Linked DNA regions of Homo sapiens: region 1 is linked to region 2. The links come from fine-mapping of genetic effects on gene expression. Tissue or cell type: anterior cingulate cortex. Region 2 holds a variant in brackets; the other region holds the start of a gene. All regions are shown on one strand. Distances are between the middles of the regions.

The links. PIP is the estimated chance that this variant, and not a neighbour inherited with it, causes the effect.
Region 1: it holds the start of CA11, and the variant in region 2 is fine-mapped to the expression of CA11 in anterior cingulate cortex (GTEx, PIP 0.96).

The regions. Positions count from the first base shown.
Region 1 is chr19:48,642,615-48,650,700 of GRCh38, reverse strand. CA11 (carbonic anhydrase 11) reads left to right here and starts at 4,514. Exons shown (of 9, transcript NM_001217.5): 1 at 4,514-5,135; 2 at 5,224-5,298; 3 at 6,132-6,274. The coding sequence starts at 5,069. It also overlaps the pseudogene SEC1P. RefSeq lists silencers at 3,896-4,305, 4,336-4,525 and enhancers at 4,483-5,183, 5,184-5,884, 5,885-6,586.
Region 2 is chr19:48,186,698-48,194,788 of GRCh38, reverse strand. It overlaps ZSWIM9 (zinc finger SWIM-type containing 9), which reads right to left. Exons shown (of 4, transcript NM_199341.4): 4 at 1-136. Among named protein-coding and RNA genes, the nearest start is that of ZSWIM9, 20 kb to the right of the region's middle. RefSeq lists a silencer at 6,161-6,393 and an enhancer at 7,987-8,046. The variant G/C (reference allele first, on the strand shown) is at 4,118.

The DNA.
Region 1 (8,086 bases), 460 kb before region 2:
GAGATGGGTTCTCATTGTGTTGTCCAGGCTGGTCTCAAACTCCTGGGCTCAAGTGATCCTCCTGCCTCAGCTTCCCAAAGCACTGGAATTACAGATATAAGCCACTGCACCCGGCCCCTCCCAAGTCTTTAAGGGTCCATCTCTCCACAACTCTGTGTCTCTCTTCCTCTCCCCACCTGTGGTGGTTTGAAAATTAATCCCCAAATTCTGTGATACGTTTCCTTTCAAGAGCAAAGGATTTTTTTTTTTTTTTTTAGACAGGGTCTCATTCTGTCGCCCAGGCTGGAATGCAATGGCTCGATATTGGCTCACTGCAACCTCTGCCTCCCAGCTTCAAGCGATTCTCCTGCCTCAACCTCCTGAGTAGCTGGGATTACAGGCACACGCCACCATGCTCGGCTAATTTTTGTATTTTTTTTTTTTTTGAGACAGTCTTGCTCTGTCACCCAGGCTGGAGTGCAGTGGCGCGATCTCAGCTCACTGCAAGCTCCGCCTCCTGGGTTCACGCCATTCTCTTGCCTCAGCCTCCAGAGTAGCTAGGACTACAGGCGCCCACCACCACGCCCGGCTAATTTTTTGTATTTTTAGTAGAGACGGGGTTTCACCGTGGTCTCGATCTGCTGACCTCATGATCCGCCCGCCTCAGCCTCCCAAAGTGCTGGGATTACAAGCGTGAGCCAACACGCCCGGCCAATTTTTGTATTTTTAATAGAGACGAGGTTTCACCATGTTGGCCAGGCTGCTCTTGAACTCCTGATCTCAAGTGATCTGCCTTCCTCGGCCTCCCAAAGTGCTGGGATTACAGGCGTGAGCCACCGCTCCCGGCCCAAGAGCAGAGGATCCTAACGTCTTTCCTTTTGAGTGTAGGCTAGATCTAGTGACTCATTTCTGATGCGTGGAATAAAAGGTGTGTGACTTTGGGAGACTAGGTCATAAAAGACTTGAGATGACTGCAGCCCTGTCCAACAGTTTCACTGCACCCTCAAGAAGGATCCAGAACCACCCAATGAAGCCATTCCCACATTCCTGGCCCTCAGGAACTGTGAACACAATAAATGTTTGTTGTTTTAAGCCACTGAGTTTTAGGGTAATTTGTCACACAACAACAGATTTTTTTGTCGTTGTTTTGTTTTGTTTTGTCGTTGTTTTTGAGACAGTCTCACTCTTTGCCCAGGCTGGAGGGCACTGGTGTGATCTCGGCTCACTGCAACCTCCACTTCCTGAGTTCAAGTGATTCTCATGCCTCATCCTCCCGAGCAGCTGGGACTAGAGGCATGCGTCACCACACCCGGCTAATTTTTGTTTTTGTTTTTTTTTTTTTTTTGAGACAGAGTCTCACTCTGTCGCCCAGGCTGGAGTGCAGTGGCGCAATCTCGGCGTGTGCCACCATGCCCAGCTAATTTTTGTATTTTTAGCAGAGACACGGTTTCACCATGCTGGTGAGGCCAGTCTCGAAATCCTGACCTTGTGATCCGCCCGCCTTGGCCTCCCAAAGTGCTGGGATTACAGGCGTGAGCCACTGCGCCCAGCCTAATTTTTGTATTTTTGGTAAAGACGGGGTTTCACCACGTTGGTCAGGCTGGTCTCAAACTCCTGACCTCAAGTGATCTGCCTTCCTCGGCCTCCCAAAGTGCTGGAATTACAGGCGTGAGCTGCCGTTCCCCAACTATTTTTTTCTTTTTCTTTTTTCTTTTTTTTTTTTTTTTTTGAGACGGAGTCTCGCTCTGTCGCCCAGGCTGGAGTGCAGTGGCGTGATCTCAGCTCACTGCAAGCTCCACCTCCCGGGTTCACGCCATTCTCCTGCCTCAGCCTCCCGAGGAGCTGGGACTACAGGCGCCCGCCACCGCGCCCGGCTAATTTTTTGTATTTTTAGTAGAGATGGGGTTTCACCGTGGTCTCAATCTCCTGACCTCGTGATCCGCCCGCTTCAGCTTCCCAAAGTGCTAGGATTACAGGTGTGAGCCACTGTGCCCGGCCTGTTTTTTTCTTTTTCATAAAAAATAGAGACGAGGTCTTACTATGTTGCCCAGGCTGGTCTCAAACTCTTGATCTCAAGTGATCCTCCCTCCTCAGCCTCCCAAAGTGCTGGGATTACAGGCATGAACCACCAAGCCCCGCCAGCAATAAATTATTAGTATGTACCTTTCCTTCTTGTGTTTTTTCTTCGTGTCTCTCTCCACCCCTGACTCTCTGGGTTTCTTTCTGGGTGTCTCTCTCCATCTCTAGGTCTTTGAATGTCCATCCCAATTTGCTATCTCTGAATACCTCTGTCTTTCTGATTCCTTTGTAGTCTCTCCCATCATGTCAGTTGGTCTGCTTCTGGTCCTCTCTCCCTCTATCTGGGTCTCTCTATCTCTGTCCATCTGTTCCTCTCTGTTGATGTCTCTTTCTCTGCACGAGTGTCTCTATTTATAGATGTGTGTGTGCCTGTTCCCAGGTCTCTGTCTCTAGCTCTGTGTGTGTGTTTCTTTCTTTCTTTCTTTTTTTTTTTTTTTTTGAGATGGAGTCTCACTCTGTTGCCCAGGCTGGAGTGCACTGTTGGGATCTCGGCTCACTGTAGCCTCCACCTACCCGGTTCAAGCGATTCTCCTGTCTCAGCCTCCTGAGTAGCCGGGATTATAGGTGTGTGCCACCACGCTCAGCTAGTTTTTGTATTTTTTAGTAGAAACGGGGTTGCACCATTTTGGTCAGGCTGGTCTTGAACTCCTGACCTCAGGTGATCCACCCACCTCGACCACCCTAAGTGCTGGGATTACAGGCGTGAGCCACCATGCCTGGCTAAGTTTTTATGTATTTAGTAGAGATGGCATTTGGCCATGTTGGCCGGGCTGGTCTCAGTCTCCTGGCCTCAAGTGATCCATCCACCTTGACCTCCCAGAGTTCTGGGATTACAGGTGTGAGCCACCATGCTCAGTCTGTGTGTGTGTTTCTATGTCTCTCCCTCTCTGTGTCTCTCTCCACCTGTACTGATGTATGTGTGTCTCTTTCTATGTCTCTCTGTCTCGTTAATGTTTGGTGTCAGGCTGGACAAGGTGGCTCACACCTGTAATCCCAGCACTTTGGGAGGCCAAGGCAGGAGGATCCCTTGAGCCCAGGGGTTCCGGACCAGCCTGGGCATCATAGCAAGACTACATCTCTACAAAAAATAATTTTTAAAAATTAGCCTGGCATGGTGGCATGTGCCTGTAGTCCCAACTATTTGGGAGGCTGAGGTGGAAGGAGTGTTTAAGCCCAGGAGGTCGAGGCTGGATCAAGCCATGATCGCACCACTGCTCTCCAGCCTGGGTGACATTGCAAGGCTTGTCTCAAAAAAGAAAATAAAAGAAGACAATGAGCAGTTTCACTACCATTAGACGGGGTGAAAAATAATAAATAACAACAACAACAGTAATATGTGGTCTCTCTGAGGCTGGGTATGGTTGTTCATGCCTGTAATCTCAATGCTTTGGGAGGCCAAGGTGGGAGGATCCCTTGAGGACAGGAGTTTGAGACTAGCCTGAGCAACATAGCATGACCCCATCTCTTCTCCCCAAATACAAAAATGTGGTGTCTCTCTCTGTCTTTGGATCGCTCTTTCTCTCTTTTTGTCTCTCCCCACCCCATCTGCTGCTTGGTCTCTGAGTTTCTGTCTATCTCTAAGTGTGTGTCTCTATGTCTCCATGTCTGTCTCGCTGCGTCTCTGTATCTCCTTTTCTGCCTCTATCTGTATCTCTCTCATTCATTCCTTCCTCTCTCCCTCCCCCTCCTCCTCTCCCTCCTCCCCCTCCTCTCCCTCCCCCTCCTCTCCCTCCTCCCCCTCCTCCTTCACCTCCTCCCCCTCCTCCTCACTCCTGCCTGGCGGTTTGTTCTTGCCTCTCTAACCTTCTGTCCCTCCGCCCTTCCTCTCCGTATCCATCTCAGGCTCCCTTCCCCTCCCCAGCCTACGCAGATGTGGGTCCTCACCTCCCGCTCTCCGCCTCTGCCCTCCCGGCTCCTCCTCCCCGCCCCTCTCTCCCTCGCCAGGTCTCTGCCTCCCCCTCCAGGCGAGCAGCCCTCACTGCACTTCAGGCTCCTAGGGGATCCCCCGGCCCCGTTAAGGCAGCCCCAGGCAGAGACCCAGTGGAGCCCTGGGGCGGGGAAGGGGGGCTGCGGGCGCTGGGGCGGCTCCAACCTGGGTCCCAGCGAGCAGGGGGACCCTGCATCCGCCAAGGCCGGCGGCCCCCAGCATGGAGACTTCCGAAGCCACTCCCAGCTCCACCTTAAGCGCCCCCCCTTCCCCTTGCTGCGGAGGATGGAAACAGCCTGCTCCCGGCCCCAGGTGTCCCGGCCACCCCCGCCCGCGTGGCCCCAGCGCGGCTGGGAGCCGAGGACCAGCCCCCTACCTCCTTCCGAATCCTGCCCTTTCGCACATCCCACCCCAAGCCAACCCGAGGAGTGTTTGCCGCTATGAGATCACCTGCTCCCCCAGCCCAACAACAAAATTAAATAACACCACGGGAGAGGAGAGAGGGAGGGGGAGGAGGGAGGAAGGGACAAGAGAGAAGAGAGACTGAAACAGGGAGAAGAGGCAGGAGAGGAGGAGGTGGGGAGAGCACGAAGCTGGAGGCCGACACTGAGGGAGGGCGGGAGGAGGTGAAGAAGGAGAGAGGGGAGAAGAGGCAGGAGCTGGAAAGGAGAGAGGGAGGAGGAGGAGGAGATGCGGGATGGAGACCTGGAGTTAGGTGGCTTGGGAGAGCTTAATGAAAAGAGAACGGAGAGGAGGTGTGGGTTAGGAACCAAGAGGTAGCCCTGGGGGCAGCAGAAGGCTGAGAGGAGTAGGAAGATCAGGAGCTAGAGGGAGACTGGAGGGTTCCGGGAAAAGAGCAGAGGAAAGAGGAAAGACACAGAGAGACGGGAGAGAGAAGAAGAGTGGGTTTGAAGGGCGGATCTCAGTCCCTGGCTGCTTTGGCATTTGGGGAACTGGGACTCCCTGTGGGGAGGAGAGGAAAGCTGGAAGTCCTGGAGGGACAGGGTCCCAGAAGGAGGGGACAGAGGAGCTGAGAGAGGGGGGCAGGGCGTTGGGCAGGGGTCCCTCGGAGGCCTCCTGGGGATGGGGGCTGCAGCTCGTCTGAGCGCCCCTCGAGCGCTGGTACTCTGGGCTGCACTGGGGGCAGCAGGTAAGACCTGGGGTTCCCGGGAGGAGCCCCCGAGGGAGGGTGGAGGTGGGGATGCCAAGGAGAGGGATTCAGGCTGCTCTCTTCCCAGCTCACATCGGACCAGCACCTGACCCCGAGGACTGGTGGAGCTACAAGGATAATCTCCAGGGAAACTTCGTGCCAGGTGCCGCCAAGGCGGGGACCCAGGAGTCCGGCCCTCCCGGCGCCTCCTTCTTCAGACTCAGGAACCTGGGTTCCCAGCTCCCTCCTCCCCCCCAGGACCAGGAGTCCCAGCCCCCTCCTCTGTCCCTCAGGAGTCGGGCCAGCTTCTGAACCCCAGGGGCTCACCATGGGACATTATACATGCGCATTTCAAGTAGTGAGTGGGAGTGAGTGGAAGGAAAGTGTGGGGGTGGAGATTATGTGTGTGTTTGCCGGGAGAGGAAGGTCCTGGCTCCTGCTAGGAACCAGAGGCTGGGTGGCCCCGTCCCCCACCTTGTCCAGCCTTCTCTTGCAGCTCCTCTCCCCAACACATTAATAATAATCCAGCTGTGGGATAAGAGCGATTAAAAAAAAGAACTACAACTCCCACGGGGCTCTGGGGCAGGTAGGCAGCAGAGGGGTAGGCTGGTAGCACTGGGGCCTGCTGGGAGTTGTAGTTCCATCTACAGTGGCTTAAGATGGGTTTGATCGGCTGGGCGCGGTGGCTCACGCTTGAAATCCCAGCACTTTAGGAGGCCGAGGTGGGTGGATTACCTGTGGTCAGGAGTTCAAGACCAGCCTGGCCAACTTGGTGAAACCCGTCTCTGCTAAACTTGGAAACTATTCCAAGATTCTTCTAGGACCCAGAATTCTGGATCTGAGCCCAGTCCTCCCTCAGACCCAGGAGTCTAGGTCCCTAGCCCCTCCTCCCCTGGGATCTGGGAGTCCAGACCACAGCCCACTCAGCAGATACCAGCCCTGGGATCCAGTCTCTATTTCTGACTCCTTGTCCTCCTACTCCGACCCCACCCCCAGGGCCTCCTTTCTGGGGCCTGGTGAATGCAGCGTGGAGTCTGTGTGCTGTGGGGAAGCGGCAGAGCCCCGTGGATGTGGAGCTGAAGAGGGTTCTTTATGACCCCTTTCTGCCCCCATTAAGGCTCAGCACTGGAGGAGAGAAGGTAAGGGGCTTGGAGGGAGGAGCTATTGAACCCACTGGGGATGGGCATGAATAGAGGCTGGGGAATGGGGTGCTGAGGTAGGAGAGCAGCCTTGGGGGAGGAGGGGACACCCAGTGGGTGGAGAGGAGGCTGCTTACACTGTAAAATGGATCACCCATTCTTCCCATCCCAAGCATGGTCCCCTAGTCTCCCCATCTCTGCAGAAGCAATGAAAAGCAGAACATTTCCTGTGCCAGGCAGATTTAAAACCTTGATAAGCCTCTCATCTCATAACCACCCCACAAAATGGGTACAATTATTATTATTGTTATTATTATTATTATTATTTTGAGATGGAGTTTTGCTCTTGTTGCCCAGGCTGGAGTGCAATGATGTGATCTCAGCTCACTGCAACCTCCACCTCCCAGGTTCAAGCGATTCTCCTGCCCCAGCCTCCCGAGTAGTTGGGATTACAGGCATGCGCACCATCACGCCCAGCTAATTTTTTGTATTTTTAGCAGAGATGGGTTTTCTCCATTTTGGTCAGGCTGGTCTTGAACTCCTGACCTCAGGTGATCCACCTGCCTCGGCCTCCCAAAGTGCTAGGATTACAGGCATGAGCCACTGCGTCCAGCCAAAATGGGTACAATTATTAACCTTATTATATACATGCAGAAACTGACACACAGAGGTTAAGTTACTTGCCTAGGATCACACAGAGAGCCAGCACTGGCATTCAAACCAAGCAGCGTAGCATGAATGCTGGGACCTGCTTTATAGTACCATGCTGGGAACCATACTTTTTTTTTTTTTTTTTGGAATTGGGATCTCACTCTGTGACCCAGGCTGGAGTGCAGTGGCCCAGTCATAGCTCACTGTAACCTCAAATTCCTGGGCCCAAGTGATCTTCCTACCTCAGCCTCAAAAATAGCTAGGACATGCCTGGGTGTGGTGGTTCATGCCTGTAACCCCAGCACTTCGGGAGGCCGAGGTGGGTGGATCACGAGGTTAGGAGTTCGAGATCAGCCTGGCCAACATGGTGAAACCCCATCTCTACTAAAAATACAAAAATTAGCCGGGTGTGGTGGCATGTGCCTGTAATCCCAGCTACTTGAGAGGCTGAGGCAGGAGAATTGCTTGAACCCGGGAGGCGGAGGTTGCAGTGAGCTGACATCACGCCACTGGACTCCAGCCTGGGTGACAGAACAAGACTCCATCTCAGAAAGAAATAAATACAGAGAGAGAGGGAGAGAAAAGAAAGAGAGAGAGCGAGAAAGAAAGAGAGAAAGAGAGAAGGAAGGAAGGAAGGGAAGGAAGGAAAGGAAGGAAGAAGCCAGGACTGCAGGCACATGCCAGTATGCTTGGCTAACTTTTTAAGTTTTTTGTAGAGGTGGGGTCTCACTATGTTGTCCAGGCTGATGTCGAACTCCTGGGTTCAAGTGATCCTCCTTGCCTTGGCTTCCCAAGGTACTGGAATTACAGCTGTGATCCACCGCGCCTGGCCAATACCATTTCTTATAAGAGCCGGCACTGCCTTTCATTTAGCTGCCCCAGCCAAAAGCCTCAAAGCCATTCCCCATCCTATCCTCTCTCCCTCATGTCCATTTCCAATCCATGTTCTTTCTAGCCTTGCTGCTAAATATTATTCAAATCCTTTCACCTATCACGCCCTCTACTGCCCCCAGTCTCATGTAGGCACCATCATCTCCCACCTGGACTGGTGGCGTACCCTCCTCACTGGCCTGCCTCTCAACTTCCTGCAATCTATTCACCCCACAGCTAGAGAGATGTTTAAAACACAAATAAGATCATATCACTCCTGCTCAAAATCCT
Region 2 (8,091 bases):
CCAGCGCGCCCTGCAGCCCCGGCAGCCGGTCCACCAGCAGCATGCGAGGGAAGCGCCGCAGCAGCGCCCTGGTGCGCGACGTCAGGAAGAACACCGTCTCCACCACAGCCTGGTCCTCCACGAACACCAGCTTCACCTGCGGGCGGGGGCAGGGAGGCAAGGAAAGAGGTCAGAGGATGCTGGGGTCTCCCCGCCCAGCTCCCCGACCTCGGTTTCCCCTTCTACGGAAATGGGACCACCCATTCATTCTTGCCTGCATATGCATTTATTCTTTTGACCGGCAGGAGGCAGTGCAGGGAAATGGTTAAAAACACTCTGGAGCCGGATTGCCTGGGTTTGAGATCCAGGTACCACAGTCTAACGGCTATGTGATTTTTTCCACATGACACTTTTAGCTTCTCTGAGCCTCAGTTTCCTCCGCCGGAAGCTGGCTATTCATTCCTCCGTGTGCTGAGAGGCAGTCTAGGGCAGTGGGTCTCAAAATGTGGGCCCTGGACCAGCAGCATCACCATCGGTTCTTGGGACCTGGACAGAAATGCACCTTCTCGGGGCCACCTCAGACCCACTGAGTCTGAAACTCTGGGGGCGGGCCCCAGCAATCTAGTTTGACAAGCCCTCCAGGGGACTCCTATGCATGCTTAAGGATGACTGGTCTGGTGGTAATGAGCTTAGATTGTGGAGGCAGATCATTTAGCTTTGAGTCCCACCCCCAACACTTCTGAACCCTGCGATTTAACCTCTCTGTGCCTCAGTTGCCTCCTTAACCTCCATATTCCCTGATTATCCCTTCTAGGCACTGAACATTCATTTCTCCATGCACTGAGAGGCAGGACAGTGGTGAAAAGCATAGCCTCTGAGGCCAAGATCCCTGGGCTGAGATCCTGGAGCCCCTGCTTCCTGGCTGTGTGCCTTCTGCCAACTTCCCTAACCTCCCTTTCATTTGTAAAGTGATGATAATAAGAGCATCTCTGTGATTGGAAAGATGAGATGCATTCAAGCATTTAGAACATTGCCTGGTACATATATTACTGTTATTACTTATCCAACAAATAGTAAGTGTTCTGAAAGTGGCCATTATAATTATCGTCTCTGTTCAAACATCACGTCCCGCTCTTCTGTGACTTCCCAACTAAGCAGACACCCCATCTCTCTCTGCCTCCTTTTGGCCATGGCACTTACCACCCTTTGGCAAGTCATATCTTCGTTTCCTGATCTGCCCATTGCCTGCTTGCCCTCCTTAAGATGGAAGCCCCACAAGCACAGGGATGTTCCCCTTCGGGATGGTCTCTCCTGGCCTCTGCCCTATGTGGCTCTTCCCTTTGCTGATTTTATTCCGTGTCCTTCTGCTGTAATAAACTGTAGCCTTGGCTATAACAGCACCCCTGATGCTTTGAATGCTACCTGCCCTGGAACAATGGCTCAATACATCCTGAGTGAGTGAACTCACGCGAGGGTGTGCAGCCATGTCCAAGGCCACATCTGTAAGGGTGGAGGTTTAAGGATCAGACTCCTGGATTTGCCTATTAGCCGTGGGACTTCAGGCAAGTGACCTCTCCTCAATGAGCCTTGGTTCCTTGTCTGGAAAAATGGAGATGTCTATTTAACAGGGTCATGGATGGGCTAAAATGAGATCACTCCTGGCCAACGCATGGAAGGACACCTGGCGTGCATCAGCTCTCAGCCGTTCTTACCGTCTGTCTCGATCTCTCAGCAGTATTCAGCACAAGTCTACATGGCTGACCCCAATAACAACCCTGGACACCAAGGCCCAAGTAAGTGTCCCTGGCTAGCAATACATCATTGTTGTCACATGTCATTGCTGGGAGAACTGAGCACTGTCCATGGGACTTCACTGAGAGACGACATCTGGCAGCTCATGCTGGTCTCTCTTGGCCTCTGCCCTATGTGCTGCTGTTAGATAATTAAGGAATCAGAGAGACTGATGGGGTCGCCTTGTGTGGCTCTTGCCTTTGCTGATTTTACTCTGTATCCTTTTGCTGTAATAAACTGTAGCCTTGACTATAACAATTTTTCTCAGTTCTGTGATTCCTTCTAGTGAATCATGGAAACTGAGGGTGGTCTTAGGGACCCCCATCTGCACCAGAGGAGTGACTTGCCCAAGGCCACTGCGCTAACAAGCAGTGATGCTGGGATCCAATAGATCCGGGCCATTAGGAATGATTGGAAACAAAAGCAGTAGGTGGGAGAACATGCATGGGCGGCATTTTAAGGGGCAGGGTGACATTTGATGAAGGCGGGGCTATGTAAATGTGTGTGTGTGTGTGTGTGTATATATATATATATATATTTTTTTTTTTTTTTTTTTTTTTTTTTTTTTTGAGACAGAGTCTCACTCTGTCGCCCTGGCTGGAGTGCAGTGGCGTGATCTTGGCTCACTGCAACCTCTGCCTCCCGGGTTCAAGCGATTCTTCCTCCTCAGCCTCCCAAGTAGTTGGGATTACAGGTGCCCGCCACCACGCCTGGCTAATTTTTGTATTATTAGTAGAGATGGGGTTTCACCATGTTGGCCAGGCTGATGAATACATTTTTCTGCCAGATATTTACTGAGAAAATATGATGTGCCATGTGCTGGCTCAGGCACAGAGGAGAACAAATGAGACACACCACTGAGTGAGAGGAGACAGCCCCCAGGCCAAGGATAAATAAATATAAAAAAGAAGGTTTCGGGTGTGCAAAGCACACATGAAGTAGTTTCTCTGCACCAGGCACAGTTCCAACAGCTAATCTTTCATCCTTACAATATCCCTGTAAGATAGATACTATGATTCTCATTCCCCTTTTTCAGATGAGGACACCGAGGCACACACGGCTTCAGTTGCTTGCCTGGAGTCACCCATGCGATTTGCAATACCAGGTGAGCTGGGATTTGAACCCTGACAGCTTGGGTCCAGGGCTTCTTGTTCCTGACCACTCTACCCTACAGCCTTCAAAAAATTGACCAAACAGGGCTGGCTTAGGCACACAGTGGACAGCAGTGCATTTTGCAGAGATGGAGAAACCCACGGAGGAACAGATTTTGAGGATGCAGATGAATGTACGGGTGTCCTTTCAGACACACAAATTGGTAGCACGGGGAAGCATCTGCCATAGACGACAGATTCCACAAACATGAACATCAGAAACCATGCCTTTACTACTTTCCATTCACACCTCTTCCGACACGTGAGTAAACCTTCCCTTTTCCATGTGATCAGAATGTTCACATGAAACTGTTCTCCAGACTGCCCCAAAGAAAAAATTGAAGGAATAAAAATAATAGCTAAGGCTGGGCACAGTGGCTTACGCCTGTAATCCCAGCACTTTGGGAAGCCGAGGCAGGTGGATCACCTGAGGTCAGGAGTTCAAGACCAGCCTGACCAACATGGTGAAACCCCACCTCTATTAAAAATACAAAAATTAGCTGGGCGTGGTGGTGCGCGCCTGTAATCTCAGCTACTTGGGAGGCTGAGACAGGAGAATTGCTTGAACCCGGGAGGCGGAGGCTGCAGTGAGCCGAGATTGTGCCACTGTACTCCAGCCTGGGCGACAGAGAGAGACTCCATCTCAAAAAAACAAACAAACAAACAACAACAACAAAATAATAGCTAAATATTGAACATATGCAGGGCTTCCTACTTCTGGGCACGGTTCTACCCATTCTGCACACACACACACACACACACACACACACACACATACACATACACACTGCACTTTCTCACACAACAACCCCAACAGCCCTATAAGATAGTATTATCCCCATTTTACAGATAAATGAACTAAGGGTTGGAGAAGGTAAATAGGTTGTTCATAACTTGTTCCATGTCCCACAGCTAGTAACTGGCACAGCCAGAACATTCATAAAGCTTTCAGCACATAGCAACATAAATAAAATCAAGTCACCAGCTGTTACTATAACACCCCAAAATGGCTTCATGTGAAAACAGGCTATACGGCATAGAAAATATTCCCTCTGGGAGCCATGAAAAACTAGAAAAGCTGAAACTAAGCTGCAGGAGGCCTGTGTAACTACATAGCAGGGGAAACACGAGCCCCATATTCAGACAGGGCTTTGGGCGGCCCTTGATGAAACAGTACCCTGTGGTTATCTTTTGCC[G/C]CTTGCCAAGAAATTGCAGTTCTCCCTCTCCCGGGCACTTAGTAGCGTTGCACCTCCCTGCCCCCTTGCAGGTAAGCAGTGTCATGTGACTTGCTTTGGCCAATCAAGTGTGAGTGGGAGGGAGCTGCGGCATCGCATCCAAGGAGAAGCCTTCGCAGCCACCGCTGCCAGATATGGTAATTACGTTGGGCTGAATGCCCATCCTCCTGGGTCCCAGAATGACTCAGATAAACAGTACTCCCCCAACATCCCGTGGTGGCTGTGTAAGTGAGCAAGAAATAAAATTCAATGAGTTCAGCCACTGAGATTTGAGGGCTGTTCATTATTACAGCAAAACCTAGGCCATCCTGACTCACACAACCTCAAGACCCTCTATAACTCGCCCTCTAATTTTTCCTTTGAGGAGAGAAACAAATGCGTTTAGTATGTTGGGACTATTGCTTAATTTTCTTTCTTTTTTTTTTTTTTGAGATGGAGTCTCAATCTGTCACCCAGGCTGGAGTACAGTGGCATGATCTCGGCTCACTGCGACCTCCGCCACCCCAGGTTTAAGTGATTCTTCTGCCTCAGTCTCCCGAGTAGCTGGGACTACAGGCACCCACGAGCATGCCTGGCTAATTTATGTATTTTTAGTAGAGACGGGGTTTCACCATGTTGGCCAAGCTGGTCTCAAACTCTTGACCTCAAGTGATCCACCCACCTCAGCCTCTCGAAGTGCTGGGATTACAGGTGTGAGCCACTGCGCCCACCTTCTATTTTCATCTTCTTTTTAAGAATTAATTATTTGAATATGCAAACATCCACATGGTCCTAAAGTCAAATAATGTAAAGCGATACATAAAAGGTCTTACTCCCACCTCTTTAGTCTAATCAGTCAGTTTCCATTCACTATTCTACCCTCATCCACAGTTCTTGGTATTCTTCTAGAGTTTCTTTATATGAGTACAAGTAAGCATACCTATAATTCTTATTTGCTCTATTTTATAGATAATACAGCATATTATGTACAGTTTTGCATTTTGCTTTTTTAACTTAAAAATGTGTTTGAGAGATCTTTCAAAATAGTTCCTAGACTTGTTCTTATTCTTTTTTTTTTGTTTGTTTAGGATGGAGTCTCACTCTGTCGCCCAGGCTGGAGTGCAGTAGCACGATCTTGGCTCGCTGCAAGCTACGCCTCCTGAGTTCACACCATTCTCCTGCCTCAGCCTCCCGAGTAGCTGGGACTACAGGTGCCTGCCACCATGCCTGGCTAATTTTTTGTATTTTTAGTAGTGACAGGGTTTCACCATGTGAGCCAGGATGGTCTTGATCTCCTGACCTTGTGATCTGCCCGCCTCGGCTTCCCAAAGTTCTCATTCTTTTTTAGTGCTGTGTAGTAATCCATGGATGGATATACCACAAGTTATGTAACCATTACCCGTTGGTGGAGTCTGGGTTGTTTCTAATCTGCTGCTTTCACAAACAACAATGATTAACCTTGTAAGTAAGTCCTTCCACAGCTGTGCAACTACATCTGCAGGATAAATCACCAGTAGTGGGATTGTGAGCCTAAGGGTGAGTGTTCTTGTCATTTTGATAGATATTGCTAAATTGCCCTCCACTGAGATCATACCAGCTTCCCATGGAGTATTCTTTTTTTTTGAGATGGAGTCTCGCTCTGTCACCCAGGCTGGAGTACAGTGGTGTGAGCTCAGCTCACTGCAAGCTCCGCCTTCCGGGTTCACGCCATTCTCCTGCCTCAGCCTCCCAAGTAGCTGGGACTACAGGCGCCTGCCACCACACCTGGCTAATTTTTTGTATTTTTAGTAGAGACGGGGTTTCACCATGTTAGCCAGGCTGGTCTCGATCTCCTGACCTCGTGATCCACCCGCCTCAGCCTCCCAAAGTGCTGGGCTTACAGGTGTGAGCCATCACGCCTGGCCCCATTGAGTATTCTTAAAAGGGATACACTTGCATCAATGCTCGCCATTCTCAGAAGGCAAAGCATACACGTAAGAGAACGCTGCAACGTTTCCGGGCAAGGTCTCTCTTTTCAGGGCTTGCTTGCTGGTTACCCTGGTGCCTGCCACAAGTGAGGGAATGGAGATGTGACTGGACCCCAAAGCCCATCATCATCAGGCAGGGCAGGTGATAAAAGGTGTTAAAGGTTGGGTGCGGTGGCTCACGCCTGTAATCCCAGCACTTTGGGAGGCCGAGGCAGGCAGATCACCAGGCCAGGAGATCGAGACCATTCTGGCCAACATGATGAAACCCCATCTCTACTAAAACACACACACACAAAATTAGCCAGGCCTGGTGGCGCACGCCTGTAGTCCCAGCTACTCAAGAGGCTGAGGCACAAGAATCACCTGAACCTGGGAGATGGAGGTCGTGCTGAGCCAAGATTGCGCCACTGCACTCCAGCCTGGGAGACAGAGCGAGACTCCATCTCAAAAAAAAAAAAAGGTATTAACACCTCCCTGGGTGAAGTCGCCCCCCAGTCTTGCCCTTAAATCATGCCTTGTGGCTTTGGGCGCATCCTTCTTGTCTGATCCCCTCCAAAGATCAAGAGAGCAACCCAACTCAGGAAGTGCAGGCACTTTTTACAAATAATCCTTCCTTTGGAAGACTGCTGGGAAGTGGAAAGACTGATTGTTGCTTGACCTAGGCTTGGGATGAAAATTTAAAGCTTGCTGTCTGTCTGTCTATCTATCTATCTATCTATCTATCTATCTATCTATCTATCTATCTATTTAAAGGGTCTCACTCTGTTGTCAAGGCTGGAGTACAGTGGTGTGATCATAGCTTACTGCAGCCTGAAGCTCCTGGGCTCAAGCAACCCTCGTGCCTCAGCCTCTTGAGTAGCTGGGACTACAGATGCATGCCACCATGCCTAATTTTTTTTTTTTTAATTTTTTGTAGAGACAGGTGCTCGTTATGTTGGCCAGGCTGGTCTTGAACTCCTGGGCTCAAGTGATCCTCTCGCTTCGGCCTCCCAAAGTGCTGAGATTACAGGTGTGAGCCATCGCACCTATTATATTATCAATATTACATGTTATGCGTTACATATTATAATATTAATATAATATATAATATTATATTATATAATATATAATATATATAATATTATATATAATATATATAATATAATATAATAATAATATAATATATAATATATATAATATAATATAATATATTATAATATAATATATAATATATATAATATATATAATTAATATATAATATATAATATATATAATATAATATAATATATAATTATAATATATAATTAATATAATATATTAATTATTACATTATACTGTTATATTACTACTGTATTATTAACATAATAATATAGAACTCTTTCATTAGATTTTATAAGTGAAAAAAAGGTGAAATTTCTGTGTAAAAGTGATGGATTGAACACCTCTCTAGTTTCACTCTCTCTTGAACCTCAATTACATCTTTTTTTTAAAATGGCTTTTTTTTTTTTTTAAATCAGAGGCAATATGATAGGGACAGAACTTTGGAAACTGGAAAGCAGCTGGACATGCTAATCCCACCCCACCCCTAAAAACCCATGAATCCTAAGCCAGCAATTGAGGGATGCTGAGAACCGGTAGCAAAGTCCTCAAAAGGAGCTGGCAACACCAGGCCAGTTTTGCAGAAGGCAAAATAAAGACGAACTGAGGGCTGTTTCAGCAGCAGCTAGACCTCCAAATCTCGTTTCCCCTCTCCCCTTACTCTTCCCCCACCCCCAGTGACTGGGGGTTTATTCTGTAGACAGGGTGAAACAGAAAGGGGCCGCTGGCTTTGGGGACATCTGGCCCATCTGAAGATGAGGGAGGGGGATTCTGAACCCCAAGTGGGTACTGAGTGCGTCTTGCTGGCTGAATGCCTGACAGCTCCCTGCCTCTGCCCCTGCAGCTCCCAGAAGCTGGCAGCCTGGCCCTGGCAGCCTGGCCTTCACCCCCCGCCAGGAGGCCAGAGGAGTT